Linked DNA regions of Homo sapiens. The protein of the gene in region 1 interacts with the protein of each later gene in a pairwise test. Each region holds a gene or a part of one and is shown in the gene's direction. Other genes may lie near its edges. The genes, in order: SDCBP, THG1L, KHDRBS2, SCML1, ANKRD36B, UBE2R2 and PRPF38A.

Region 1 (4,179 bases):
AAAAATTTTGAAAGTCCATTTTTCTTCTAGGCTTGAGTTGCTGGTGTGTGAATTAACTCAAGAGTTGTTCAGACAACTTCAGTTAATATTTATTTGAAGAGAAACTTCTATGGAGAGAAAAGTTAGGAAACCACTTCATTTTTCATGAGAACAGTGGGATTTTGAAGTTAGCCAATGACAGAATCAAAAAAAGAAATCAAAAATAGAAATAATATTAGATGGCCAGGTAACATTCTTTTCAGTGCATTTTGGTTGTTGATATTGCAACTTGCTTTGCATTTTGTATATTATATATCATATGCATTTTGTTTATATTGATAGAATGGCTGAAAGTTTAAATAAGGCAAAAAATTGTGTTTAGGGAAAGGCTGCTAGGAAATTGATCCTTTGAACCCAAAGAAGATAATTCACTTTGTTCTCCTGGATTAATACAATTAAATCATATTTGATAGTGCTCTCTCAAGAATGTGAATTTTTTTTTTTTTCTCACAAACCCAGATTCTGTTTTTCCCTTAAGGACTGTACCAGGCCACTACTATTCACCATTGTACTGGAGATTATAGCCAGAGAAATTAGAAAAGAAACAAAAGATGTGTAATAGCAGCAAGAAGGTGCAATAGAAAGCTCATATGCTTCTTCTCCCCACAGAAATACTGATTCAATAACAATACACACACCAGACCTCTTTGTGAGAAATCCGGAAACTAGTTAAGAGGCTCCTGCATTCTAGGTGAGCAGTAAACCAGCTGCAGTGAAGATGGTAGGAAAATTCATCCTACTTGCTCACCATAGTTCATTCCCCTGGCTCAGCATGGCATGAGCAAGAGGAAACTCCAGGCTCCTGGTTTTTCCCTGGGCGGGGAAAGAGAAGACTGAAACATCTGTGTGACATTCAGATTTTTCAGAGGTCTGCCCAAGGGTCTGGTTTTTATTTTGCTTGAATATAAGTTCTGACAGGAAAGGGCACCAGGTTGCGGGGTCATTGAAAACAAAGTTGACAGTTTAGATTAGCAGGCACTCACCATGGTCCCTCCCCCTCCCTCAGCATGAAACCAGCAGGAGAAAATCCTCAACTCTTGGCTTCTCCTTGGGGAGACAAAAGAGTTGGAATGTGTGTCCAGTGTTTCACCTTTTCAGTGGGCTGAGGGACTGGCTTCTGTCTTGCTTGTCTTGGAAAGCTGACAGGGGCTGGTGTATTCCAGGTGCCCAGGAGCCACTGAGAACAGAAGACTTGTTGCTGCTCTAGAGGACCTATGGTAGGGCAGACAGAGGATGATACAGCTCAGCAGCTTGTCCCTACGTGTGGCATGAAAGGTGTTGGAGAGAGAATAGTGGAGTATGTGTCCAACATTCCAGCACTTCAGAGAGCTACCCCCAAGGGACTGGCTTCTGTTTCACCTGACTTGGAGCACAGGCAGGAGTGGACATACTCTAAAAGCCCACTGATGGGAAAGGGCACCAGGTTGGAGGCCTCTGAAAACAAGAGAGCTGGGTGGCTTGCAGCAGCTCCAGAGAACCTGAAGTACCACAGACAGATAGCACAGGGAGCAAAAGATTATGAGATCCTGAAAAAGGAAACGAACAAGTTCATCTTGAGAATTTATACACACTGGTCGAGAAGAAGCATCCTCAGGAAAGGTTCAAAAGGCATGCAGAATCTCTAGTCAGGCCGATCAGTGAGGATCTTTCTCTGTACAGAGCCAGACCACAAAGACTGGGAGGGGTGATATTTTTTCAAATGCTTGGATCCCAACATGATGTTAAAAGACACACAAAGAAATAGGGAAACATGGCACAATCAAAGAGTCAAAATATCCAGGAACCTACTTTAAGGAAACACAGATATCTTCATTATCTCAGAAGGAATTCAGACTAACCACCATAAACATGTTCAGTGACCCAAGGAAAATGCTGCATGAACAAAATGGTATCAACATAGAGATTGAAAACGTAAAAAGGAACCAAACAAACATTGTAACAGATGCAATATGCTTCTTTGACCAAATTGAAAGATTTACTAGAGGAGTTTAGCAGCAGTGTTTTTCAAGGAGAAGAATTAGTGAACTTGAAGCCAGGTCATTTGAAATTATCCAGTCAGAGAAGCAAAAAGAAAAAAAATAAAAAAAGAATGAAGACAGCCTAGAGTACTAATGGGACAGCATCAATTTTATCAATGTAGATTGTATGGAAGTTCCATATGTTGGAAAGAGAAAGGAGCAAAAAGCTTATTTGAAGAAATACTGGCCAAAACTTCCCAAACTGAAGGAAGGCAGTGGACATCCAGATTCAAGAAGCCAAATGGACTCCAGAGTAGAACAATCCGAAGACATCTACATGGAAACACACTGTAATCAAATTGTCAAAGAATTTTGAAAGCAGCAGGATAAGAACAACTTGTCATATACAAAGGAGATTCTGTGGGACTCTAAGTGGATTTCTTAGCAGAAACCTTGCAGGTCAGAAAGAAGTGGGATGATATAGTCAAACTGCTGGAAGAAAAACTGCCAGCAAAGTACTGTATGTGGCAAAACTTTTCTTTAAAAGTAAAAGAGAAATAAGATTCTCAAAATCTGAGAGAGTTCATCACCACTATATCTGACTTAAACGCCAATGGGAGTCTGTTAAATGGAAACAAAAGTATGTTCAACATGAAAGTATAAAATTAAATGATAAAGCTATGGACAAATAGAGACCTGCATATTATTGTAATGGTGGTGAGTAAATCACTTATTTCTGATATATAAGTCTAAGACAAAAGTTTAAGTGCCTGTAACTATAAAAATATTAATAGATGCACAACATAAAAGATGAAATTTGTAGCATCAGTAATGCAGTATGGGGATGGATGAGAAGAAGCAGTATTGTATGCAGTTGAAATTATCAGCTTAAAATAGGTTTATTAGAAGATGTTTTATGTAAACTCCATGGTAACCACAAAGAAAATACCTATAGAAAATACACACACACAAATAAGGAATCAAAGCATATCTATTAAAAAAAAAAACAGTGAAACAAAAAGCATGATGGCAAGAGAGGAAAGGAAGGACAAAAAAGTTTCAAGATAGAAAATCATTAACAAAATGTCATTGTAAGTCCTTCCCTATCAGTAATAACTTTAAATGTACTAAACTCTCCAATCAAAAGACATAGAGGGGATGAATGGATTAAAAAAATAAAACCAAGAGCCAGCTATACCCAGTTTATAAGAGACTCACTTCAGATTTAAGGATACTTTTTATTTTTTTACAGAAATGGATATACTGATTCTAAAACTGATACTGAATTGATAGGGATTTAGAATAGCCAAAACAATTTCGAAAAAGAACAAAGTGGGAGGATTCACATTAACTGATTTTAAAACTTAATACAAATGTACAGTACTCAAGAATGTGTGGTACTGGTATAAGGATAGACATATAGATCAGTGAAATAGAATTGAGATTGCAGAAATAAGTGCATACAGTTATGATCACTTTTCAATAACGATGCGAAGACAATTCAAAAATGTTATTTTCAAAAAATGGTGCTGAAATAACTGGGTTTCCACATGGATAATAATGAATATGGATCTATACCACACACCGTGTACAAAATTAACATAAAATAGATCAAAGATATAAATGCAGGAATTAAAGACATAACATTTTTTGAAGAAAACATAAGGGTAAGTCTTCATAACCTTGAGTTGGGCAGTAGTTTCTTAGATGTTATATCTAAAGCATAAGCAACCAAGAAGAAATATAGATTCAAATTTGTCAGAATTAAAAACCTCATATTGCAAAATGCACTGTGAGAAAAAATGAAAAGACAATCTACAGAATAAGAAAAGTATTTGTAAATCATATATGATAGTGGTCTATGATATGGTCTGAATGTTTGTGACTGTGTCCCTCCATTCATATGTTGAATCCTGTAATCATCAAGGGGATGGTATTAGAGTTACCATATGACCCAGCAGTTGCATGCTTAGCTATATTCCAAGAGAATTAAAGATGCATTTATTAAAAAAGTATATAAACTTACATATTATTTGCTAACAATGCAAATGCTCATTGGCATTTTTAACAGCATTATTTATAATAGCCAAAAGTGCAAATAACCCAAATGTCATCAGCTGATGACAGCATAAATATAATGTGGTATACATACAATGGAATATTATTCTGCTATGAAAATGAA
Region 2 (4,715 bases), on another chromosome or scaffold:
GAGGTTCACCTGAACCCAAGAGGTCTAGGCTGCAGTGAGCTGAGATCATGCCATTGTACTCCAGCCTAGGTGACAGTGAGACTCTGTCTCGAAAACATACACATAAAAAAAATAAAAATCATGAATTCATATTGATAAGTAATTTTGAAAAATTCACCTAATGAAAGTAGGGCTCCTAGAGGAGGCAAGATTTGGTTGTCTCCTGGTCAGCTTGGAGAGAGGAGTTTGTGGAAGTAAAAGGTGAGGAATGATAACCTACAGAAAACTGACTTCACAGCAACAGAAACAAAGAAAAGATGCAGGATGTCATAATTTATGTCTTGGTCCTGCCACATATGTGACCTTATGTAAATTATTTTTTTCTCTTTGAGTCTCAGATTTCCCCTTTGTAAAGGTGAAATCCCAGTTCCTCTTTTGCATCCCTCTGATGTTACTCTGAGCATCAAAGGAGTGATGACTACCATTTGTGGTACTATTATGAGGATATACACACATACTGATATAGATCCCTGTATGGATACACAAAAAACTGGTAACAGTAACTGCCTAAAGTATGTTGTTAGGAGTCAGTGAGAGACTTTTTGCTACATATAAAAGGATTTATATTGTTTGAATATTTTTCTTTTTCTTTAGAGACAGATTCTTGCTCTGTCACCAAGGCTGGAGTGCAGTGGCTAATGATGGGTCACTGCAGTCTCGAACTCCTGGCCTCAAGTATCTTCCCACCTCATCCTCCCATAGCTAGGACTACGGGCATGGGCTACTAAGCCTGGATAATTTTTTTTCTTTTTTGTAGGAACAGGGGTCTTGCTACGTTGCCAAGGCTGGTATGAATCTCCTGAACTCAAGCAATCCTCCTGCCTCTGCCTCCCAAAGTGCTGGGATTACAGGCGTCAGCCACCGTGCCTGGCCTGAATATCTTTCTTGAGGATGGAAAAAAAAAAAAAGTAAGTAAGTAGGTAATGAATTTGAAAGAGCTTTGTAAATCACAAAGTATGACACAAATATTAGGATTTTATTTTTACTATTATCCACCAGCAACAAGATATCAAACACTGGTTCTGTGATTATTTAATGGTGAAAAAGTTGAATAAATCAATTTAGTATACCCATATGTTGGAATATTGAGTCCATTTTTCTTTTAAAAATCACACTTTGGAATAATTGATGATACTGGCAAATGCTCAAGCTGAGTGGAAAAATATATAAACATTGTATAGGCGAATAATTCCAATCTTGTGCATTCCCTGTGTAAACCTACATACACAAAAAGAAAAAAGACTGAAAGGAACCATCCACAATGCTTTGATGGGAAAGACGGAGAAACAAAGTGTTAATTTTCTTAACTATAGTTTTGGTGTATTCCAGATTTTCTACAAGTTAATAAATGCCACTAAGAAAAGGGGAAACATCACAGCTACACCTTCAAACACCAGAAAAAGAATTTTTTTTTTTTTTTTTTTTTTTAGGTTGGGGTATGATTTTGATCTGGGCACTAACGGGGACACTGATTGCTTTTGCCAGTAAGTCAAGACCAGCAGATAAAAAATAATTTTTAAAAACCTCGTGAGACTGATTTGCCGCAGGACGGGAGGAGGAAGAAGCAAGCGTGGAAGGTGCTAACGGAGGAACCTAAACCTCCATCCTCTTTGCCTGGGAGGTTAAGAACTACAGGGAGAGGCGAGAGAGACTATGACTGCCCTACGGCTAGAGTAGCCGCGAAGAGAACACTTCCGGGGCGGGGCTATCTGGCCCTTTCCTTTCCGCGTGTAGAATGTGGGGCGCCTGTAAAGTTAAGGTTCACGATTCCTTGGCCACCATTTCCATCACTCTGAGACGGTACCTGAGATTGGGGGCGACCATGGCAAAAAGCAAGTTCGAGTACGTGAGGGACTTCGAGGCTGACGACACCTGCCTGGCACACTGCTGGGTGGTAGTGCGGCTGGACGGCCGGAATTTCCATCGGTGAGCGAGCTCGACTCGGGGCGTCGCGATGCGCCAGCGCTTCCGGGGAATCCAGCTTCTTCCCTTGCAAGTCCTCCCGCCCGCTCCAGTCACGGTTACCAGGGTAACGCGGTAGCCAATGAGTGCGCAGCATGGAGCATTGCCCCGCCCTGCGTGTTGGCTAGGACAGTGCCTGAACGCTGGCTGTTAGCGTAATTGAATGGGCGATGTGCTCCCGTGATGAGGATCTGGCTTGGAGTGCCCGTGTTAAGTGAACAGAGACTTGTTAGCAAGGACCTGTTGTTAAAAGTCACTCTCATGCACAATATTTAAGCTCTTAAGCCAATTGCCTAGCTATTCTGTTAGATATCTTTGAATGCTGACTGTTCAGAAGTCTGTGTAAGCCTTGCTTGTGGGCAATACTTAACGTCTGTGCTTCATTATCAGTAACAGGCCACATGGACTAGATTCAACAGAGAGTCAGAAAAAAAGAGAAGGCTGGGCGCGGGAGGCAGGAGGATCACTTAAGGCCAGGAGTTGGAGACCAAGTTTTTGTTTTTGTTTTGTTTTTTCTGTGGTTGTTGTTTGTGAAACTCCGCCACTACAAAAAAAAAAAAAAAAAAAAAAAAAAAAAGAGAGAGAGAGAGAGAAAGAAGGAAGAGAGAAAGAAAGAAAAAGAAAAAATTTAATTTGCCCGGCGCAGTGGTGCACACATGTAGTTCCAGCTACTGGGAAGGCTGAGGTGGAAGGATCGCTTGAGCCTGGGAGGTCAAGGCTGCAGTGAGCGGTGATTGGACACTGCACTCCAGCTTGGGTGACAGAGCAAGACCCTGTCTCAGAAAAAGAGGGAGGGGGAGAAAGAAATATAACAGAAAGATGGGAATTTAATCTTTGAAGAGGGCTGCATTGTTAATGATTATTATAACTAACATTTATTGAGCACTTACTAGGAGCTAGGTATGATTACTTTTATCTTCTCCCTAATCTTCAGGACAACCCAATGAGGTAAATATTCTTTTATTCCCATTTCACAGAAAGGAGAGTTGAGGCTTAGCATTTCTGTCTGGCTTTCTCAATTTCAGGGCAGGAAAAAAACTAAGTTCTTAAGAAAATGGATCAGGTTGTGGCTAGTTGAGCATTTGAGTTCACAGTGCTATTACATTATCTTCCTCCAAACAGCCTCTGTTATCTAGCAACAGAGCGTGTTGTTAATGACAGGCTTCCATCCATGCTTTCTTCCCTTTTTCCCCTGTGAAGGTTTGCTGAGAAGCACAACTTTGCAAAACCCAATGACAGCCGTGCTCTCCAGCTGATGACCAAATGTGCGCAGACTGTGATGGAAGAACTAGAGGATATTGTGATCGCGTATGGACAGAGTGATGAGTACAGCTTTGTGTTCAAGCGGAAAACCAATTGGTTTAAAAGAAGAGCCAGGTAATTCCATGACCTAACTCCTTTCTTCAGAATATTTCCTCCCAGCATCTGGTTTTCTGTTTATCTTAATCGCAGACTTACAGGCTACAGATGATGTCTGCAGTATTTGTAACTGCAGAGTACATGTATATTTCCTGTTTAGATTGTTGTACTTCCATCTGATAGCCGAGCATTCTGTGTGCCTCTTTTATCTGATTCTTTCCCCACATGCCCCATAAGATTGGTTTCTAGACTGACCTGGCATTGAACATTAAGATTAGAAACAGAGACTATAAGAATGTAATATTAACAATTCATAGGTTGGCTTTAGCCAGTGATAGTCTCTACGTGCATTGCATTACACTGTTCCTCAAGACAGATCTCATTATAAAATACACAAATCTGATATTTGATTTGGCAGTATTTTGAAACGCTGTATGGGAAACAAATCATATAATGAATTGGTTTTTTCTTTCTTTCTTTTTTTAATAGAGGTGGGGTCTCTCTGTGTTGCCCAGGCTGGTCTCAAACTCCTGGCCTCAAGCAGTTCTCCTGTCTTGGCCTCTCGAAGTGCTAGGATTACAGACATGAGCCACCACGCCCAGCCTGAATTGGCATTTTTTTTACAACAATGGTTTCTCTCCTTTCATGACTGTAAACACAAACAGATCAGGCGTGGTGGCTCACGCCTGTAATCCCAACACTTTGAGAGGGTAAGGGAGAGGATTACTTGAGCCCAGAGGTTTGAGACCAGCCTGGGCAAGATGGTGAGACCTCATCTCTACAAAAAATTTAAAAATTAGCCGGGCTCAGTGGCATGTGCCTATAGTCACAGCTACTAAGGAGGTTGAGGCAGGAGGATCCATTGAGCCAAGGAATTTGAGGCAGCAGTGAGCTATGATTGTGCCAATCCACCCCAGCCTGAGGGACAGAGAGATTCCATCTTTTAAAAAATAAAATAAAATTTAAAAATACCCCTTGAATCATAAATTCGTATCACATCCTGTAGGGAAAGGTTTAGTATCAGTAGGTTACTTAATAGAACTGGAAGGAGAGGCAGGCTGCATTTAAAATACATAACTGGCCAGGTGTGATGACTCACGCCTGTAATCCCAGCACTTTGGGAGGCTGAGGCAGGCAGATGACTTGAGGTCAGAAGTTTGAGACTAGCCTGGCCAACATGGTGAAACCCCATCTCTACTGAAAATACAAAAATTAGCTGGGCGTAGTGGCCTGCACCTGTAATCCCAGCTACTCGGGAGTCTGAGGCAGGAGAATCACTTGAACCCAGGAGGCAGAAGTTGCAGTGAGCCAAGATGGTGCCATTGCACTCCAGCCCAGGCAACAGAGCAAGACTC
Region 3 (4,179 bases), on another chromosome or scaffold:
TAAAATGTTGACCTTGGATATGTTATGTAATTATATGTTACAATTTAATTAATACAATAATCACTTAGAGACTTACAATAAAACATTAAATGTATTACATGTAAAGACATTTACAACTGTATCGGATATTTAGTAAGTGCTCGATACTATATATTTGTTATTGCTTGAAAATTAAAGATTGGTCATACCAAATGCCCACAAAAAAAAAGAAAATAGCTTTACAAAATAGAAAATCTTATTAATAAGAGAACTTTGCATAACATGAGTTAACAATTCCTAATTTGAATTGTTATGAAATTATTACTTTATGAAGTTATTTAATTACACTTATATTCAAAAAGATGATGTCTAGAATATTTTAAGCTCTATAATTTGTTGAAAGTGTATTTAATTAAAACAATTTACATTTCAATAATCCTATCTATGATAACTCTAATTTTCCAATAATAATGTATACCAGAGAACAAAGCATTACATCTATATATTGTAATAATAATTTATTTTGCATAATTGATGAATGAAAATATATGACATCTCTAACACACATCACCACTATATGTTGCAGTGAGTGCAGTCACTGAAAAACGAAACATCGGGGTAAATTTTGAAGGCTTTTGTTTACCACGTTGAGAACGAATACATAGAACTAATAGAGTTTGTTAAAGAGGAGAGTAGTCATATTTGTTTATGCGAAAGACTACTCAATTATCACTGTGGTTGATGCAGAAGAGTTACAGTGATTGAGAGAGAGAGAGAGAGAGAGAGACAGAGACAGAGAAACCGTCTTATGGCAGGGGAGCCAATGAGAAAACAATTCCATCATCCAAGGCAGATAAAAATGAGCAGCATTTGGAATAGACAGGGATAGGGCCAGATTAGAGATTAACATTTATATGAATTAATGCCAATTAAACGTTGGAGAAGAAGAGTTCCCCAAGAGAAAGATAAATTTTTGGTGTCTAGCCTGGTGAGAAATTGATGATATCATTAACTAAGAGTAGGTGAAGGATCAAATTAAATGAAGAATATAATTATTCTTGTAAATAATCTGAGCTCTGTGGATTGCTGGTGTGACCTTGGGCAGGTGACTTGTTCTCTCCATGCCTTAATATCTCAATGTATTTTTAAAAAACTTAGAACTGCCCACATGACAAGCTTGTCAAGATGCTTAAATTGGAGTATTCATTTAAGGCAGTGGTTCCCAAATTGGCCTGTATTTTGGAATCACTGGGAGCTCCCTGTCTCCAGAGATTGTGGTTTAATTGGCCTAGGGTATGGCCTGGAATTTGGAATTTTCAAAAGATCCTCAAGTAACTTTAACATGCAGGCAAGTTAAGAAACTTCTGATATAAGGAACACAAGCCAAGATATGGCATTATGTTAGGAAGAAAACAGATTATAGCCATCATCAGAGGTAGGGATTGCAGGGTGCAACCATGAGATCGAGGATAGAAACTGGGGACATCCAGATTCCAAAGTGGGTCCAGGAATACAAGCCAGTGAAGGAGGATAACGAATAAGGAGGAATGAGGAAAAGTAGAGAAAAGCAGAGTCATAAAAGTCCAAAGAAACATTTTCCAGATAATAGTCCACAATCTTAAAAATAGTAGAAAGGTGCTGTGGCATGGAGACTGTAAAGAAATCTAGTGGATTTGGAAATCAGTAGGCTACTGGTGATCTCAGCCAAGAGCATTTTCAACAGAGGGGTGAAAGCAAGAACTAGACTGATAACATTCAGTTCAGGAATGTAGAGGAAGTAAAGAATTAAACAGAAAATATTCTTTCAGCAAGTCAGACAAATAAACGACAGGATACTGTGGTGTGGTTTTAGCCAGGGGCAGTATCCTAAAAAAAGTGATTTGAATTAAATTGGAGGAGAGAACAATGAGGTTAATATTCCAGGGAAAGAACATAGTGGATAAGAGGTAATGAGTCAGGTTCAGGAGGCAGGTTTGCTAGGGCTGTGTCTGGTAGTCAGTTGATGAAGGAAGAAAATGGAAAATTAGATTTGATATGAGCATCATATAATATTAGAGCAGAAGGAAGTACTATAAATTTAGAAATCTGCATTTTACTCATTAGAAAAAAAAATATCTATCTTAAGCCTAGGTAGTTATAATACTTACCCATGACTATTCAAGGGTATAGCGAAGGCTCGTGAATAGAGTAGGGTGACCATATAATTTATTGCCCACACATGGATATTTTTGAGAGTGTTAAAATGCTAAACTGAACAGGAAGCTAGGACAACAGTTATAAAACCTGGACATATGCTCATCTTGCTTATGAGGAAACAGAAATGTGCTTGGAGGAGCAGTGAAGGCAAAATTGGTTTTTACATCCCTTTATGTATTATCATGGTAATACAGAATACTGTATTCTTAGCCATGTTGTACTTGCAGCCAGCACTGGGCCTCTGGGTCTTTGTGTTTCACCTTCTCCCAATCTAGGAGAGTATTCTTTATACATTAGACTCACAATAAATTCTCTCATCATTTCTCTATTCATCAGCTCTGTAATCTATTTAAAAATTTTAAAGGTTTTGCCAGCATTCGTACCCTTCACTTATAAATGCTCACTTTTATTTTAAGCAAGAAAGAGCCATCTGACTGCTATTCATAGCAGACAGCATAACCTATGTCCCCATATGTGCCTACAGCCAAATACTGTGATTGTTGACATCTCAATGATCATCATTTTTTTCCCCAAAGCTTTAGTGTTCCCACTGAAAGCAGTGCTATCTAGAGGCCAACCTTTCAGACAAAATAAAAAGTGAAATAACTGTTCTTTTGCCCAAAGACTTCAGACAAACACTCAACCATTCTAAAGGCTTCAAAATGCCATAAAAATTGGCCACAACCATTTGATCTTACACTTTTAGTGCAAGTCAATTTTGTATCAAGAACTGCAATACAGAGTATTCAGTCTGTTATTTTTATTACAGATACTAAAGTATTCCTCTAACACCATAGTTATGGTTAAGAAAATATATTCTGTCAGGGACTGCACCAGTTCAGGGGGTTACAGGCATGATGATAAATCAGTGACAAAGAGTTGTGATTTCAAGTAATCTCAAACTTAAGCAGCTATAGTAAACAGAATGATATCACTATGGTTAGATTCCCACATTTTATTTAAGTGCAGCCACCTTTTTTTTTGGTAAATGACAGCATTGTCCATCACTATCTGTAATCCCCAGCATAAAGGAGATGCAGACATCTGAAACCGCTCAGTTTCAGAGATGGTCCAGTGAGTCATATATCAGACGATGCTCTGATTTGTGTCTTCTTCGAGAATTTGGAATTTAATGGGGTTATATTCAGAGTGGGTTTTTGTTTGGGTTTTTTTTTTTTTTCTGGCTTTGGGTTTTTAGTTATATAAAAGACAATAACAAAGTATTTTACATGGTTTTTATAAGAACTAATCATAGTCAGTGTTTACAATTATTGTCTTCTATAGATATCAACACACTTTATATCTTATATAATTTCTATTAAATGCATACACACACACACACACAGAGAGAGAGAGAGAAATTTGTATTTATTTCATTGTATGGAGGCTGTGAGATGAAAACTTTTTCTGTGATAGGCCCTTTTCTCTCATCACCTGTTTCTCATCTATACATGACTTGTTTCTCTTAGGGGCCGTGGGGGTGCCATTCCTCCTCCCCCACCACCTGGACGAGGTGTTCTCACCCCTCGGGGAAGCACTGTAACCCGTGGAGCGCTTCCAGTGCCACCTGTAGCAAGAGGTGTCCCTACCCCTCGAGCCCGGGGGGCACCAACAGTGCCAGGATACAGGGCACCTCCTCCTCCAGCCCATGAAGCTTATGAAGAATATGTAAGTACTCTTAAGAAATAAGTTGTAAGGATGAGTTAAATTGATTAGTTAACAAGCTACGTCTCAAACTGTTCATATACCGTGAATATAGCAGGTAATGTTTGTTGCAGAAACGAATGTCATTTACAACAGAATTTAAGCAGTGCATTTAAATGAGAGCATTTTGAGAAAAGGTTTCATTTTACAGGTGTCATCACTGTTAGTGCTAGTTAAAGAGCTTGTATTTTAAGAACCAAACTTATCCTTAGGAAGTTTGATCAGATTTCAAATGAGAAATAATTATAAACAAAAGGTGAATTGCCATGTATTCAGAGATTTCTGGAACTTGACAAAGAT
Region 4 (4,179 bases), on another chromosome or scaffold:
AGTGACCAGGGCTGACACCCTTGCTGCTTTCTGCATCTAGTCCCCTCCCTGAACTCAGAGCTGCCCCCCATCGGGCATCCCCCTCTCTCTCCTCTGGCTCCAGTCCCTGTCCCTCCTTCCCCTCTACGAGTTCTCCCACATCTTGGAGAAGCCACTTCTCTTGCTTCCCATCCCTCCTTTCCTGTCATCCTCACTCTCTTCTTCCTGTGACAGCCCCACTCCTGGAATGTCATTCATACTTGCTGTCTCCACACCTGGCTTCCTGTTTTTCTCTCTGGGTATTTATGAACCTGCTGTTCCTTCTATGCTGTAAGCCCTTCCATGCATCCTCACCTGGCGAGGGCCTTCTCATGTTTTAATTCTCACTTCAGACCTCACCTCCTCTGAAAAGGTCTCCGTGACTGCAGCCTGGGTTAGGACTGCTTTTCTGTGCAGGCTTAGCCTCCTGTTCCCACCTGTGTCACGCCACTGGTAATAACAATAGTAACATGAAGAGACCACTGAGCACTGTTGGACCGGGTGTAGTGTAGTGCTGTTACTGTTAGTATTAACCTAATACTATAGCAAGGTTCTCGTCCTCGAGAGAACCCTGAGAGAGCTTTTCATCCTGATTCCCTACATGAGGACACTGAAGCACAGAGAGGTTAAGTAACTTGCCCTGGGTCACACAGCCAATAAGTGGCTGGACTGTAGTATTTGACCCCAACCATGTTCCCCAAGAGCCTGCACTGTTTATCTCAGTGCCGCAGCCCTGTGGTTCTCACTAGGGCCATCAGAATCACCTGGGGGGCTTGTGAAAACATAGACCACTGCCCCCACTCTCAGAGTTCCAGGTTCCATAGGTCTGGGGTACAACCTGGCATTTGGCATTTCTGATGAGCTTACAGGTGATGTTGATGCTACCAGTCCGTGGACCACACTTTGCAAACCACTGTTCCAGGCTGTTTATCACTTTGTCTGCTGGAATCCTCTTTTTACTTGTCTCTCTCCCAGCTGAGATGGTAGTTCCTCTAGGACAGGCTGGAGTGCAGTGGCTCAGTCATGGCTCACTGCAGCCACAACTTCCCAGGCTCAGGTGATTCTCCCACCTCAGCCTTCCTAGTAGCATGGACTACAGGCATGCACCACCACGCTTGGCTGATTTTGTGTATTTTTGGTAGAGACGGGGGTTTCGCCATGTTGCCTAGGCTTGTCTCCAACTCCTGAGCTCAAGCGATTCACCTGCCTTAGCCTCCCAAAGTGCTGGGATTACAGGCATGAGCCACCGCACCCGGCCAGGAGCTTTTTTTTTCGGTCCATGTTCTCAATACCTAGCAAAGTAGTTCTGCCAGGTGGTAGGCCATCAATAAAGGTTTAGTTGAATGAGTGAATGAATGAATGAATGAATGAATGAGGAAATGTTTCTGGCCCTTTGTTTAAGTGTATTTTTCTTTGCCCAAAGTTTCTGTGTATTTCAAGAAGAATTCTCAGATTTTTATCAGCCTCCTATGTGCTTGATTGCAATGTTTCTGGCCCTTTGCTTAAGTGTATTTTTCTTTGCCCAAAGTCTCTGTGTATTTCAAGAAGAATTCTCAGACTTTTATCAGTCTCCTATGTGTTCGATTGGCGCGTAAGAGATGTGTACTTAACGGTTTTGTAAGATTAATTGCTGACTGCGTGATTTAAAAATACTTTGAAGCCAAAAGTCACATCTGTTATATTTGGTTCAGTGTTCTTTCTGGAGTGGAACACTCACTGTCTGTATATAATATAGACTTCATATTTGTACATATATGAACATATATGTTACATATGTATATCATAAAGTGAGTCTTTGTTCTTTTAGCAGATTTCTTTCCTAAAATAGCACCTTCCTTGATGTGCAGTGTCTTCATCATCAATGTGCTAGCATAGAGGCATTGTGGGACATTCATTCACCAGCATTAGAGCTTCCTCAATTCCTACATGGAGTAGAGCAGGGGAGGGGACTACTCTAGCTCAGCCTGTTGGCTCTGTGTCACCTACAGCCAGGCCTTGAATAGGAGCAAGACATTTCTGATGGCTTGAGAACTTTTGTTGTGTCTAGCAGTTAACATTTGACTTAATGGTATTTTCACGTTACTTTTCTTTGAAATAAAAAATTATATTTTACATTGTATACCAATTATATGACTACATTGTATTATAATAGGTTATATATGATGCTCTGCAAAACCTGGATAAGAAGATTGATGTGATTCGTAGAAAGGTTTCAAAAATCCAACGTTTCCATGCGAGATCCCTGTGGACAAATCATGTAAGTGTTATAAAAAACATTTTTACAACTGTGATAAACCTCTGGTTTGTAAAGATGCCAATGAGCTAGAAGTGAGAGAGTACCAGTATCTGTGTGAGATTAGCAAGGCATGTCTATACTTGTAACAGTAGATGGAGACTAAACTCTGTTGGGAGAACGCTGAAGTTTAGGTTTGATAATTTATGATGCTGCCTATTTTTATGTTTGTAATTATAATGTGTAAAATACAATTAAAATGTAGGATTGAAGAATTATATAATCAAAAGGGACCATTTATTTTTAATAATGTAAAGCAATGTTGCATGGAAAATAAGTATTAATGTATTTGCTACTAATTTTATTTACTTTTTTACTCACTGTTGGTTTATGCTGTGTTTGTGTGATTTCAGAAGCGATATGGATATAAAAAGCATTCTTACCGGCTTGTTAAAAAGCTTAAACTCCAGAAAATGAAGAAAAATGAGGTTTACGAGACATTCTCCTACCCTGAAAGTTACAGCCCCACTTTACCAGTGTCAAGGCGTGAGAATAATTCCCCGAGCAACCTTCCAAGGCCATCCTTTTGCATGGAAGAATACCAGCGAGCTGAGCTGGAGGAGGACCCGATCCTCAGCCGCACTCCGAGTCCAGTGCATCCCTCAGATTTCTCTGAGCATAATTGTCAGCCGTATTATGCATCTGATGGTGCAACGTATGGTTCTTCTTCAGGGCTCTGCCTTGGCAACCCTCGGGCTGACAGCATCCACAACACTTACTCAACTGACCATGCTTCTGCAGCACCACCTTCAGGTATGCTGGCCCAGGGAGAGCCCAATTTGGTACATGCCCCTGAGATGATGAGTTACTCAGCTTTGATGGAGAATAGGTATACTGGATCATCTCTCTGCTTCCCTTCTGGTTTGGTGAGTTTGAAATGCCATATTTACAAGTAGCACTATTTGACCTATATTTATCAACATCCTTGATGCAAACTAGTGGAAGCTGTTCGTTTCCTATTTTGAGGGCTGGTTTTAGGTGATATTCAGAATGATGACTAACATTTATTCAATGCATATTATGTGCAAGGCACTGCACCAATCAGCTGACATGCCTCTTCTCCACTTATACTCATAATGACCCCATGGTTTTGGCACATTTATTACGCCATCCCCACGATCACAGAGCTGGTGAGTAGCACTTCTAGAACTCTGCCCCATTGTGCTTTTCCAAATCTTCTATTTTTATTTACCCTTTCCCTAGATAAATAAAAAACACTCCTGATATGGCAAGAGCCCAGATGGTAGGGAAGAAAGGGTATGTTTTTGGCTAATTCACACACACAAAAAGATCAAATTGTGTTGATGGTCCTGGTTGGAGAAACAAATTTTCCTAACTAATTACAAAACCCACTTTAGTCATCACACACTAATTTTAGGGAGTCTAACACTGTGGGTGAGTAAAAGGATACTTGTCAGTACACAAAGAAATTTCAACACAACTTAGTGTAGAGCATAGCTAAAACTTTCTGAAGTATGAGCAGTTAAACTGTCTCATATCTCAGTTATTTTTTAAACATATAAACCTTTGACCAAAATCTCTATTACTATGCAATTAAACATGAAAGAGGAATTAAATAAAATGTTAGTTACTTCTGACCTAGTTCAGCAGAAAATAATCTTGTTTTCTTCACAATGCACATTAGCACTTAAGCCACGAGAGACAGGAATCTAAAAAGTAAAGCGATACTAAAAATAACCTTATTGAATACGTGGGGAAGATTTGATAAAAGTACTAATTTGGTTCTTAAAGATAATGGGGTTGTTATTGAGATTCATTGATTAAAAGGAACAAATTTAAGCAATTATAAAACTGTAAATTTGGAGAATTTCCATTATATTTTGCTAGTAAAATTAACCTAATCTAGA
Region 5 (4,179 bases), on another chromosome or scaffold:
CTCGGGTGACCCTGATGGTGCTGGTCCTTGACCATGATCTGAGTAGTAAGATTGTAGACTTCCCTACATTGAAATTAGGAAGAATAACCATAGGAGAGTGGTTTAGCACATAACAGCCTCAGGGGACAGCATCATTTTGCTTTAATTCTACAGCAAGTTTCCATCAAGAGGGGAAGGAGAAAGAGATGAAGTAATAGATATTATAGGCGTCAGATTATATTGTTATAAACAGAGGGAAACGTCATCCTAATACCTCAAAAACAGCATAGAATGAGAACGAACAAGATCACTGAAGTAGCAATTATTTTCCACAAGGAAGAGGGATTGTGAGGCAGGAAGGAGAGAAAAGAAGAAGTTATTTATGTAATTTTGGGGTTTCTGTTGAGGAAAGCTGAGTGAACTCACTTCAGATAAATTTGGAATATTTGCATAAAAGAACACTAAATTTTGGCTTCTCCAAGAACTACTGGAAGCAGGAAACAATGCTAGAATTGGGATAAAGCACACTGACTCATTACTCTTCTTTGCTACTATTAGGCATCAGAGATACATGTTTTGTTGATTTTAGTTATAAAAATGAGATAAACTTGAATATGAATACATTGGCTTCGTTGTTCAAGGAGCTAACTCTTGGGTAAAATAGCTATTGGATGAAACTTCTTTAGAGAATAGCATGATACTCCCAACAAGACTATTTTAGAAACAAAAAGTATGTGGAATTCTAATTAACTCCTAAAGTGGTCATTTTCAATGAATATTGGAGTGATTTGTGAATGTAAAACATATTAATATCTAACGCTTGTAGCAGTTTTACTTTGTAGAAGTATGTCAAAATTGATAATTGATGATATTTTTATTGAGGCTAATATATTATCCTTTGGTGCCATGAATGGATGAAGAAACTTTTGGAAAGCTAAACGAGTGGATACAAGAAACTTAGGCAAATTATTACACCACGTGGGTTTGAGGAATAATAAATATTATCTACTCAGTTTCAGCAAACAGATATCCAAGGTGATCAATTTAGGACACTTCTACTGAAGAGACGTGAAGTGTACATTCAACTGAAGTGTCATTGTAATTGTGTACCTTCTCTGTTATCGGGCAAGTTAAAGAGCATGATGAATGTCTGTAGTATAATGGTGTAAATCCTTTTGATTTCTTGCATGAAAGACCTGTGGGATCAAGTACCACCTACTTTGACATTGATTCTCAGGTGTATGAGTTGATCCTCTGATTTTAGATCACATTTGTCCTCATCACTCAGCATATCCACGTTGATATTGACACGGTTTTATTTTAGTTTTAGACATATGACAAATCATACCATGCTTGAAATTGTAAGTATATTTTTCATGAAGGCTGTATTACTTTTTTTCAGTGTATTTCTGTCATGTTCCAATCCCCAGACACAAAGTAGGAAACATCAAATCCTACCCTAGTACAGGCAGAAGGATACAGCTTGATGCTAACACTGCATGAATGTATGAATAACTTTATCATACGTGCATGTGGGTGATTATGTATCCCTTTTGCTTTTCAGTGTCTTCTCAGAGACGACCAGCCTTGAAGGTAATTAAACTCTTATTTATATTGTGAACTAGTAATTGTATAGTCTATGAAACATACTTTATTTATTTATTATTTTGTTTCAAATTCCATTCAGACTACAGGTGATGAGAAAGATTCTGTTTCGAATATAGCCAGAGAAATAAAGGATGGAGAAAAATCTGGGACAGGTAATTTTACAAAACACATTTAATGTCATGTTCAGTCCAGATAGAAAAGAACTTCTCTTCCCCAAATAAATCAGCGGGGGGGTTCGTCGCAGCTGCACATTCCGATTCTGCAGACCTGAGATTCTTCATTTGTAATAAGTTCTCGGGTGACGCTGATGCTGCTGGTCTTGGACGTGATCTTCGAAGTAAGATTATAGACTTCCCCACATTGAAATTGGGAAGAAGAAACATTGGAGACCATGTCAAGACATAAGGGGCTCAGGGGACAGCATAATTTTGCTTTAATTCTACAGCATGTTTTCACCAAGGGTGGTAGGAGATAGAGATGAAGTATAGATTTTACAGATATCACATCGCGTTCCTAAAAACAGATGGAAAAGTGATCACAATAACCCATAAACACTGTAGAATGAGAACTAACGAGACCGCTGATGTAGCAATTACTTTCCTCAAGGAAGAGGGATTGTCAGGCAGAAAGGAGGGAAAATAAGAAGTTATTTAGGTAATTTTGTTGTTTCTTCTGAGGAAACTTGTGTTCAGATGCATATTCGAATATTTTCCTAAAAGAAGATTTGATTTTGACTGCTTTAGGAACCAGTGGAAGCAGGAAGGACTCCTAGAATTGGGATAAACCACAGTGACTCATTGCTCCTCTTTGTTACTCTTGGGTGTCAGAGATATATGTTTTGTTGATATTAGTTATTCAAATGAAATAAACATGAATATGCATATATTGGCTTTTCAATTAGCTAACTTTGGATAAAATAGCAATTTAATGAAAATGCTTTAGAGAGTAACATGATACTTCAAACCAGACTATTTTAGAAACAAAATTAATTTGAATTCATTAATTGACTTTTAAAATTGTTATTTTCAATGAATATTGTAGTGATTTCCAAATGTAAAAGGTTATTCATATCTAATGCTTGTAGCAACTTTATTTTGTATAAGTTTGTCATTTGATCATTTATTATACTTTTTGATATGGTTTATATATTATACTTTGTTGCCATGAGTGGATGAAGAACCTTTCTGTAGCCTAAACTAGAGGACACAACAAATGTAGGCACATTATTACACCACATGGGTTTGAGAAATAAAGAATATTGTATACAGGATTATCCCAACCTATATCCAAGCTGATGAAGCTGCGACACTTCCACTGAGGACTTGTGAAGTGTACATTCTATTAAAGTGTCATTGTCATTGTGTACCTGCTCAATTACCAGGCAAGTTAAAGAGCATGATGAATACTTGCAGTACAGTGGTATAAATCCTTCTGATGTCTTGCATGAAAAACATGCAGTAGCATTTAGTACCTTCTTTGACATTGGTTCCTGGGTGTATGAGTTGCTCCTCTGATTTTAGATCACATTTCTTTTCATCATTCAGCATATCCACATTGATATTGACACTTTTTATTTCAGTAATACACACATGACGCAAAATACCTCTTTGTAATTTCTGACTGAATATTTTCTGGAAGCGTGTATTCCTATTTTCTTCAGCATATTTCCTCATGTTCCTGTCCCAAAGACACAAACTGTAAAACATCAAATCCTACACTAGTACAGGCAGGAGGATACAGCTTGATGCTAACACTGCATGAATGTGTGGATAACTTTATCATATTTACATATGATGGATTATATATTTCTTTTACTTTTCAGTGTCTCCTCAGAAACAATCGGCCCAGAAGGTAGTTACTCTTTCATTTATATTTTGAATTATTTATTGCATAGCCTATGAAATATATATTATGTATTGACTATTTTGTTTCTCTTTCCATTCAGGTTATATTTAAAAAGAAAGTTTCTCTTTTGAATATTGCCACAAGAATAACGGGCGGTGGGAAATCTGGAACAGGTAATTTGGCAATATACATTTAATGTCATGTGCACTCAAGATAGAAGACAACGTCCCACCCCTGAATAGATCAGCAGGGGGCTCATTGAAAATGCACTTTCTGATTCAGCAGGCCTGAGATTGTGCATTTCTACTGAGTTGTCAGGTGTTGTTGATGCTGCTGGTCCTTGGCCATGATCTTAGTAACAAGCTTATAGACTTCCCTACATTGAAATTGTGTAGAAGAACCGTTGGAAAACAGTTCAAGACATAAGAGATAAGAGGATCCGGGGACAGCATAATTTTGCTCTTATTTCAGAGCATGTTTCTATGGAAAGGGGAAGGAGAAAGAGAAAAAAGTAATAGAAATTATAGATGTCAGATGGTACTGCTTAAACCAGAGGGAGGAAGTTGTCATAATAACCCATAAACACTGGAGAATGAGGAGCAAGGTGACCACTGATGTAGTAATTATTTTCATCAAGAGAGGGATTGCAAGGCAAGAAAGAGGGGAAGGAAGAAGTTATTTAGGTAATTTTGGGGTTTCTGCTGAGGAAGCCTGAGTGAACTCACTTCACATGCATTTAGAATATTT
Region 6 (4,179 bases), on another chromosome or scaffold:
ATAGATTTTCAAGCCTGAATCCCTACTCTTAACTTATCCTAGTTCTACTCTGGTTCTTTATTACCACCTAACATTAGTGTCATTCATTGGTTGCAGTTAATAAACAATGTTAATTCATTATAAGTAACTGAAGTCCATACGCTTTCACATTTCCTTTGTTTTTACCTGTCGTTGTTTTGCTCCAAAATATTTCATACATATAAATATATATCTATATATGTACGTGTATACATATATGTATTTAAATTTTTTGTAGAGATGGGGTCTCACTAAGTTGCCCAGCTGGTCTCAAACTCCTGGCCTCAAGCAGTCCTCCCCACTTGGCCTCCCAAAGCGCTGGGATTATAGGCATGAGCCACTGTGCCCTGCTCATCACATTATATTTAATAGTCATGTCTTCATGGGCAACTCCTCTCTCTCTCTGTCTCTGTCTCTCTCTCTCTCTCTGTTTCTGTCTGTGTCTCTGTCTCTTGTCTTTGAGACAGTGTCTTCCCGTCACCCAGACTGGTGTGCAGCGGTGTGATCACAGGTCACTGCAGCCTCGACCTCCTGGGCTCAAGTGAGCCTTTCACCTCAGCCTCCCAAGTAGCTGTGACTATAGGTGTATGCCACCATACCTAGCTATTAAGCAACTCTTGATTATAAATTTTCTTGTTTTTGATGACAATTTTGGGGGGTACTGATCAGGTATTTTGTGCAATGTCCCCCAGTTGAGATTTTTCTTATGTGTTTTCTCATGATTAGTCTAGGGTTATAGGTTTGGGAGAGAAAGACCAGAGAAGTAATGTGCCATTTTCATTATGTCATATCTGAAGTATTTACTATCAGTGTGGCTTATCCCTGTTGATGGGATACCTTTCATCACCTGCCTGAAATAATATTTTTAGCTTTTCTCCACTGTAAAGTTGCTCTTTCCTGAACTTTTCATTCTGTACTCCTTGGAAGGAATATGCATAGCCCACAACTAAGGAGAGGGTGGCTATACCTCCTTGAAGCCAGGGTATCTATATAAATTATTTTGAATTCTTCTGCATGGATTGATCTATTCTTCCCCTTTATTTGTTTATTCAATCATTTGTTAAACATTTTTACTGATACAAAAACTAATAACTTGATTAGAATCTCCAGGTTTATCAAAAGTGAAGAATTGGAAGCTTCCTGACTTGTAATAGAAGCTCTTCAAGATGTGTCAAATGACTGTTGATTATGTTTGTTACTCATTCCTTTGGGTACCTTGTTCCATCCAATTTATTTAGAAAGAGTTGAGAAAATAGATATATTAAAGATTTCAGCATATCTTACCAATATATTTTTTAAGACAAAAAATGTTACTTTCTTTCTAAATTCAAATAAATGTGTTTTTACACCTCACCTTGACAACCATCATCCCTCTGAATGTTTTTTTCTCATATTTCTTTTTTTTTTTTTTTTTTTAAGACAGGATCTTGCTCTGTCGCCCAGGCTGGAATGAAGCGGCGCGGTCACGGCTCAGCACAGCCTCAACCTCCCGGGCTTGAGCAATCCTTCCACTTTAGTCTCTTGGGTAGCTGGGACCACAGGCATGCATCACGGTGTCTGCTCAAGATTTTGTATTTTTTTTGTAGAGAGATGGGGTTTTGCTTTGTTTCCCAGGCCAGTCTCAAACTACTGGGCTCAAGCAATCCACTTGGCCTCCCAGAATGCTCAGATTATAGGTGTGCCCCAAAGCACCTGGACTAATTTTTAAGTTTTTTGTAAAGATGGGGTCTCACCATGTTGCCCAGGCTGGTCTGAAACCCATGGGCTCAAGTGATGCCCCTGCCTCAGCCTCCCAAAGTGTTGGGATTACAGGTGCTCACACTACACCCGCCTTCTGAATCTCTTATCTATACAAGAATAATACCTACCTCAGTAGGTTGTTGATAGAATTTAAGTGAATAATGCATGTAAACCTACTAGAATGGTGGATATTACCTGGCTGGCTTGGGTTGCAGCTATTATTTTCAAGGAATTTTTTGGGTCTAATGTGAAGCAGTCATTTGCTATCTATTAGAAGAGAAACACATTTCTTAGTTCCTCATATTTATTTCATTTTGCTACAGGGAGACATAATTGCTAGATGCCTGTATCGTAACCAGTTCAAGTAGTACATAATTTATCTTGGGTTCTAAATACATGAAAAGAACTAAAATAATTGTTTTGAGCTGTTTTTGAGATATTCTGTAATTGAGAATACGCTTTCTTTTTTTGAGGGGAAAAGTGTCCTACGTAGCAAATTATGTATACATGAATTATCTCGATAGACTCAATTTTAAATTAGTATTAAAAATTCTGAGTTGTAGGCCGGGCGCAGTGGCTCACGCCTGTAATCCCAGCACTTTGGGAGGCCAAGGTGGGCAGATCACCTGAGGTCGGGAGTTCAAGACTAGCCTGACCAACATGAAGAAACCCTGTCTCTACTAAAAATACAAAATTAGCTGGGCATGGTGGCACCTGCCTGTAATCCCAGCTACTCGGGAGGCTGAGGCAGGAGAATTGCTTGAACCTGGGAGGCGGAGGTTGCGGTGAGCCAGGATCGTGCCACTGCACTCCAGCCTGGGCAACAAGAGTGAAACGCTGTCTCAAAAAAAAAAAAAGTCTGAGTTTTATGTATTCTATATTACTCAAGAGTATGTTTGAGGGTGCTACGTCTTCAGAAGTAATTGTAGCACATTATTTTGACATTATAATTAGACAATGTGTATAAAAGTTTTTAAAAAATATTTTGGATGATTTGTTGAAAAAATTGCATCCAAAAAAATCCCCAGTTGTACTTTAATAATGATTCTGGTGCATGGATTTTCAGGACGAGTAATAACCCTAGATTAGAGGAAGTGGTAGCTATAATACTGGTGATTCTTGGTTTTGCTGGTTGAACGTTGAATCAAATGCTTACACCCTCTCCCTATTTGAGAAAATAAGCTTCCCCTTTCCTCAAATACAAAGCCCCAAACAAGATTTTCCTCATTGCATTTTTATGCTGCTTGGCTGGATAATGTATTGCCACCACCCATGGGAATTCAGGCTTTTTATCCTTTACTTCTCTTGCATTTACACGCAAATGATGTCATTTGCCTTATCTCAGCTTAAAGTATTATGAACATTTTTTCTTTTAAAATAGGCCTACTTCTCATGTAATCCAGTCTTTTGGAGGCAGAGGATTCCTTTTATACTTATCTGCCCATCTGAAACTGCCTTTGTTACTTTGGGTACTAGCATCATTTTGTTTCCTCACACTTGAGTCCCCAGGCCACCTGAGCCACAATTTAGGGACATTCCCCATACTCAAATCAAGATTGTTTTCCCTGCTTTTATGCTGCTTTGTTTAGAAGCTTCCCAACTACAACTAGTTATGTGGAGTTACACCTAACATCTTCACACAGCTCTACAAGGTATTTGGGTTGGAAATTGTTTACCTTCTTAGACTTTTTATCACTTAGTTCTATGTAATCATTGGGTAGTCCTTCAACATTTTGATCTTATTGGTGTTTTCGGGGGCTGTGGGATGTTTTGTACACTTTTTGGAACCTCACCTGTCTGGAATACCTGGTGGTGCTCAGAACTCTGAGCGGAAGTCAGGAAAGCACTACCTAATGAGCAGATGTGGAATACTTTCGCTTATCCCTTTTGTTTCTGTGTTCACTTGGTTGTGAGACAAGGGAGGTTTTAAAGTAGTAAACTGTTATATTTTCTAACAGGTCATTTATGGCACTGAAATATTAAGAGGGAAGATACAAGATGTAGTGGAAATGGGCAACTATTTTCCTTCTTGTACCTCTCTGCTGCTAAATTATCTAGGGCCAGCAACTGTCTAAGGGTTCTGGGCTCCATGTCCAGTTTATGGGTGGCTGTAGTAAGACAGCAGTGGAGATGGCATAGGGTTCATCTCATCCTGTTTTGGAGTCTTATCTGCTGCCTCTCACTGGCATCTGAAAGTGATTCCATATTCACGTATTTGGTTTTCTTCTCCATAACCACGTGTACTCAAGACTATTGTTCAGCACCTCAATGGACATATTTATAACATAAAGTGGCAAATGGAGCACTTTTGTAACTTGAAGAATAAGGGACTCCAGTTACCTTCAAGAGTCTAAGTCAGTCTGTATTATCAGATCTGGTGAGTAGTGAGAGTTAGCCAACCTGAAAAGGAAGAATTTTAGG
Region 7 (4,179 bases), on another chromosome or scaffold:
TCCTGCTAATTGGGACATCTTCATTCATCCCTTAATCTCTTCTAAAGAGGCCTAGCACATAGATGTCCTGATATGAAGTCTTAACACTTCTTTTACTTTTTGGCATCTAAATCTTTTATTTCCAGGTTGTTTGCTCTAATGACTTTTTCTTGCAGAGTTTGAATTGATGCATGTTGATGAGTTTATTGATGAACTATTGCACAGTGAGAGAGTCTGTGATATCATTCTGCCCCGACTACAGGTAAGAAATAAAAGTCTGTTACCAGAGTCACCCTTCTCTTCCTAGACGGGCAGACAGACAAACACATACACACAGCTTAAACACTGAAGCCTGTGGATCTTATGGGTCCTCTTAATGAATAGTCTTCCTGTCTGGGAGTCCCAAGATAGTGGATTGGGAGTGAGAGGAAAATAGATAAAATATTTGAAGGGTAGGGCTTTAAAAGTGAATGGTTTAAAACAAGGAAACTTTGTTTTTCTCCATCCTTTTGTAGTTCAGGTGCATGTGTGAGTTGTGCCTCCCTCAAACCTTGTTACAAAGTCAGCACATTACCTGTCTATCATGAAAAAAGAAATTTATTCAGGATGTTACATCAAGGGTATTGTAGCTAGAGTAGGTAGGGAGTTTTTAACTTCATGAACGTTTTTTTTAAACTAATCTTCATGTAAAAAGCCAGGACATAAAACAGATAAAAATAGGGCCAGGAGTGGGAGACTGAGCCATTAATTCCTTAAACTTGCCTTCACCATCCTGCTTCCCTTTCCTAGTGATAAACGATTATCCATGAGGCATCTTTTCAGGAAATGAGTGTGATACAGCTCTCCTGTTCCATGTTGGCACTGTAGGGCATGTAGTGGAAAGAATGAGATTATAAATTTGAAAACCTACTTTGAGGGCCCAATTCTTATAGCAAGACAATGTCTTGCTGTGTTGCCCAGGCTGTTCTTAAACTCCTGGGCTCAAGGGATCTTCCTACCTCAGTCTCCCAAGGAGCTGGGACCACGGGTACATGCCACTACATTTAGCCATTTGGCATTTTTGAAATCAGCTTTGCCTCTCTGATCCTTAGCCACTCAAATAAACATTGCTAAGCCATATCCCAGATTAAAATGGAACCAGTTCAAAATGCATGAATATCAACAGCTCCCGAGATCCTGGGTCTACTGGAGATTTGGTACTACTCTAGGGCTAGGCCTCTTCTAGTGGAACTACCAGCCATGAACTTATTAGCCCTTGGATTTTCTCTGTGTGTGAAGCCCTTACTTTTGGTTCTAGGCTGTACCTATACTGATTGATATTCCCATGACTTTAGAGTATAAGGTACAGGGAATAGAGTCAATAGAAAATGAAGATGTTCTCTTCAGGTTTGTATTTATGTTTATAGGAGAACTTTATAGATTTCAGGTCTATTAAACTTGTTAGGAAAATCTTGAACTGTCTTTGAAATGAAATTGCCTCAGCTGTTGCTCCTTGGAACCCTGAAGCCCAGTGTTGAGGTTTCAAGAAATAGGGGAAATGGCAACAACCCCTAACTCTCATCATTTTCTCTGTAGAAACGCTATGTATTAGAGGAAGCTGAGCAACTGGAGCCTCGAGTTAGTGCTCTGGAAGAGGACATGGATGATGTGGAGTCCAGTGAAGAGGAAGAAGAGGAGGATGAGAAGGTCTGGCACCTGAGACTTTTATGGTTGTAGGGGAGGGAGTAATAGAAAATGGGAATGGTTTTTTGTTTTTAGACTTTAATTTTTAACTCTATTGGCCGGGCGTGGTCGCTCAAGCCTGTAATCATAGCACTTTGGGAGGCCAAGGCGAGTGGATGACCAGCGGTCAGGAGTTCAAGACCAGCCTGGCCAACGTGGTGGTGAAACCTCGTCTCTACTAAAAATACAAAAATTAGCCAGCGTTGTGGTGGGTGCCTGTAATCCTAGCTACCCAGGAGGCTGAGGCAGCAGAATTGCTTGAACCCGGGAGGCAGAGGTTGCAGTGAGCCAAGATCGCAACACTGCACTCCAGCTTGGGCAAAAGTGAGACTCCGTCTCAAAAAAAATTTTTTTTCTAACTCTAGCCAAAAACAATATTTCCTTATTAAAAGCACCTCAGCTCTGCCATATACTAGTAGTATAATCTTACGCAAATTACTTAAATTTAGTTTTCTCCTATGTAAAGTGAGGTTAATGATACTTTTTTCCCCAAGACTGTTAAAAGTATTAAATAAGATTATAAACTTAAAGCCCTTAGCAGAGTATTGGCACATTATAATTGCCTAATAAATGGTGGCAGCTATTAAATACTTGGAAAGAAAGAACACTTTCATAATTGCACCTATCCTAAGGAATAAACCTTGTTTAGGAGGGGGAAAATGTCAACCGCATAGTCATGTTCTTTCAGTACTAGTTACGGTGCTGAAAAGTTGAAAACAACCAAGCTGCCCAGTTGTTCCAGGAAGCAAACTTTTTTTTTTTTTGAGATAGGGTCTTGCTCTGTTGCCCAGGCTGAGGTGCAGTGGCTCACTGCATTCTCGGCCTCCCAGGCTCAAGCAGTCTTCCCATCTCAGCCTCCCAAGTAGCTGGAACTACAGGCACGTGCCAGCATACCTGGCTAATTTGTGTATTTTTTTTGTAGAGATGGGATTTCACCATGTTGCCCAGGCTGCAGATAAACTAAACATACACACATACACACACACAGGTCTGTTTCTGTTCCCTCTCCTATGAGTCATTTTGGCTGTCTTATATAGCTCATAATAAGTTTTGTTAGTTAATAGGGTAAGTGCTTCCCTCTTTGTAGTCAGGTTACTGTGCTTTAAAGTCACATGGAGATGGACTTTGGGACAAGATGGGGCGTGAAGTATAATTAGTGTTCCTAGATGGCTCTTTATAAGCCTGTGCCTTTCAATGACCCAATCATCTTGTTTCCAGTTGGAAAGAGTGCCATCACCTGATCACCGCCGGAGAAGCTACCGAGACTTGGACAAGCCCCGTCGCTCTCCCACACTGCGCTACAGGAGGAGTAGGAGCCGGTCTCCCAGAAGGTAAAGCCTAGTCATTGGCCTTTTCCCAGAAGATTTTGAGCACTGTAGCCTAGAAGTTTGGATTTTAGAGAAGGAAAAATGCACGTCTATGGAGAATGTTTGCCCAATATATTAGTTATCTGTTGCTGCAAAACAACCACCTATAAAACCTCATTGGCAGACAACAATAACCATTTGTTCCTTTCACAAGTCTGCAGTCAATGATTTAAGCAGAGCTTGGATAGGCAGTTTTTAAAGTACCTGTTCTGTTGTCGGCTGTCTACTGGCTGGTATGGAATTGCCTTAGCTTGGATGACGGGGGAAATTTCTCTTCTCTGTGTCATCCTCTAGCAGGCTAAGTTGGGCATATTCTCATGGTAGTGGCAGAACTCAAGAGCAAACAAACCCGGTCATGCAAATGTTTTTCCAGTATCTGCTTTTATCACATTTGCAAATATCTCATTAGCCAAAGCGAGTCATGTCACCAGTCCTAAAGTTAGAATGGGAGGGTGCTAGAGTTACGTGACAAAAGACATGGATACAGAGGTGGGTGATACAGAGAAGCGTGAAGGATAAGATTGGGGCCGTTTTTGCAATCTACCACATCCAGTGCGCCAACCTAGGCTTTCTTCTTCCTCTCCTCTTTATAGGCGGAGTCGATCTCCCAAAAGGAGAAGGTAGGCCTTCAGTCATTTGTGATGAAGGATAGGGCTTTGGGGAGGGGGTGGTGGTATTGGTGTTATATGTATATTGCTAACCAGATCTGGTAGTCTGACCAGTCTTTTCTACAGCCCCTCCCCTCGCCGAGAAAGGCATCGGAGCAAGAGTCCAAGACGTCACCGCAGCAGGTCCCGAGATCGGCGGCACAGATCCCGTTCCAAGTCCCCAGGTAAAGCTTGTGGGCCTTTTGCCACAGGTTGTCTTAACAAAGAAATGTAAAAGGAGTAGTTAGCCTCCTGCAGTACAGGAGTGCCTGACTGTACTGCCTAACAGAAAAGCAAATGGACATAGAATTTGAAAATTAAGGTTCACAGCTTGACTGTCACTTATAAGCTTTGCTGATAAGGTTTGCTTTAGTTTTTTCATCTAAAATTGGAGGAATAAGATCTAACATAATAGTGAAAACCCAATATGATGTTTGTGAAATTAGTCATAAAGCCCTTGAATG

The links.
Region 2: the proteins of SDCBP (region 1) and THG1L interact in binary tests that used the Homo sapiens proteins (3 or more experiments, as listed by UniProt).
Region 3: the proteins of SDCBP (region 1) and KHDRBS2 interact in binary tests that used the Homo sapiens proteins (3 or more experiments, as listed by UniProt).
Region 4: the proteins of SDCBP (region 1) and SCML1 interact in binary tests that used the Homo sapiens proteins (3 or more experiments, as listed by UniProt).
Region 5: the proteins of SDCBP (region 1) and ANKRD36B interact in binary tests that used the Homo sapiens proteins (3 or more experiments, as listed by UniProt).
Region 6: the proteins of SDCBP (region 1) and UBE2R2 interact in binary tests that used the Homo sapiens proteins (3 or more experiments, as listed by UniProt).
Region 7: the proteins of SDCBP (region 1) and PRPF38A interact in binary tests that used the Homo sapiens proteins (3 or more experiments, as listed by UniProt).

What each region holds. Positions count from the first base shown.
Region 1 is NC_000008.11:58,559,082-58,563,260, forward strand, and holds part of SDCBP (syntenin-1), read left to right. Parts: intron 1-1,202; exon of another isoform or gene 1,203-2,666; coding exon of another isoform or gene 2,667-2,714; intron 2,715-4,179. UniProt on the Homo sapiens protein: Multifunctional adapter protein involved in diverse array of functions including trafficking of transmembrane proteins, neuro and immunomodulation, exosome biogenesis, and tumorigenesis.
Region 2 is NC_000005.10:157,729,667-157,734,381, forward strand, and holds the start of THG1L (probable tRNA(His) guanylyltransferase), read left to right. Parts: upstream 1-1,753; 5' UTR 1,754-1,774; coding exon 1,775-1,965; intron 1,966-2,132; exon of another isoform or gene 2,133-2,343; intron 2,344-2,763; exon of another isoform or gene 2,764-2,944; coding exon of another isoform or gene 2,945-2,949; intron 2,950-3,201; coding exon 3,202-3,378; intron 3,379-4,715. UniProt on the Homo sapiens protein: Adds a GMP to the 5'-end of tRNA(His) after transcription and RNase P cleavage. This step is essential for proper recognition of the tRNA and for the fidelity of protein synthesis.
Region 3 is NC_000006.12:61,894,299-61,898,477, reverse strand, and holds part of KHDRBS2 (KH domain-containing, RNA-binding, signal transduction-associated protein 2), read left to right. Parts: intron 1-3,644; coding exon 3,645-3,843; intron 3,844-4,179. UniProt on the Homo sapiens protein: RNA-binding protein that plays a role in the regulation of alternative splicing and influences mRNA splice site selection and exon inclusion. Binds both poly(A) and poly(U) homopolymers. Phosphorylation by PTK6 inhibits its RNA-binding ability.
Region 4 is NC_000023.11:17,747,230-17,751,408, forward strand, and holds part of SCML1 (sex comb on midleg-like protein 1), read left to right. Parts: intron 1-2,170; coding exon 2,171-2,275; intron 2,276-2,664; coding exon 2,665-3,064; intron 3,065-4,179. UniProt on the Homo sapiens protein: Putative Polycomb group (PcG) protein. PcG proteins act by forming multiprotein complexes, which are required to maintain the transcriptionally repressive state of homeotic genes throughout development.
Region 5 is NC_000002.12:97,537,594-97,541,772, reverse strand, and holds part of ANKRD36B (ankyrin repeat domain-containing protein 36B), read left to right. Parts: intron 1-1,543; coding exon 1,544-1,572; intron 1,573-1,666; coding exon 1,667-1,739; intron 1,740-3,409; coding exon 3,410-3,438; intron 3,439-3,532; coding exon 3,533-3,605; intron 3,606-4,179.
Region 6 is NC_000009.12:33,900,498-33,904,676, forward strand, and holds part of UBE2R2 (ubiquitin-conjugating enzyme E2 R2), read left to right. Parts: intron 1-4,179. UniProt on the Homo sapiens protein: E2 ubiquitin-conjugating enzyme that accepts ubiquitin from an E1 ubiquitin-activating protein, and catalyzes its covalent attachment to other proteins by an E3 ubiquitin-protein ligase complex.
Region 7 is NC_000001.11:52,410,960-52,415,138, forward strand, and holds part of PRPF38A (pre-mRNA-splicing factor 38A), read left to right. Parts: intron 1-155; coding exon 156-241; intron 242-482; exon of another isoform or gene 483-563; intron 564-1,554; coding exon 1,555-1,665; intron 1,666-2,919; coding exon 2,920-3,032; intron 3,033-3,661; coding exon 3,662-3,688; intron 3,689-3,802; coding exon 3,803-3,900; intron 3,901-4,179. UniProt on the Homo sapiens protein: Involved in pre-mRNA splicing as a component of the spliceosome.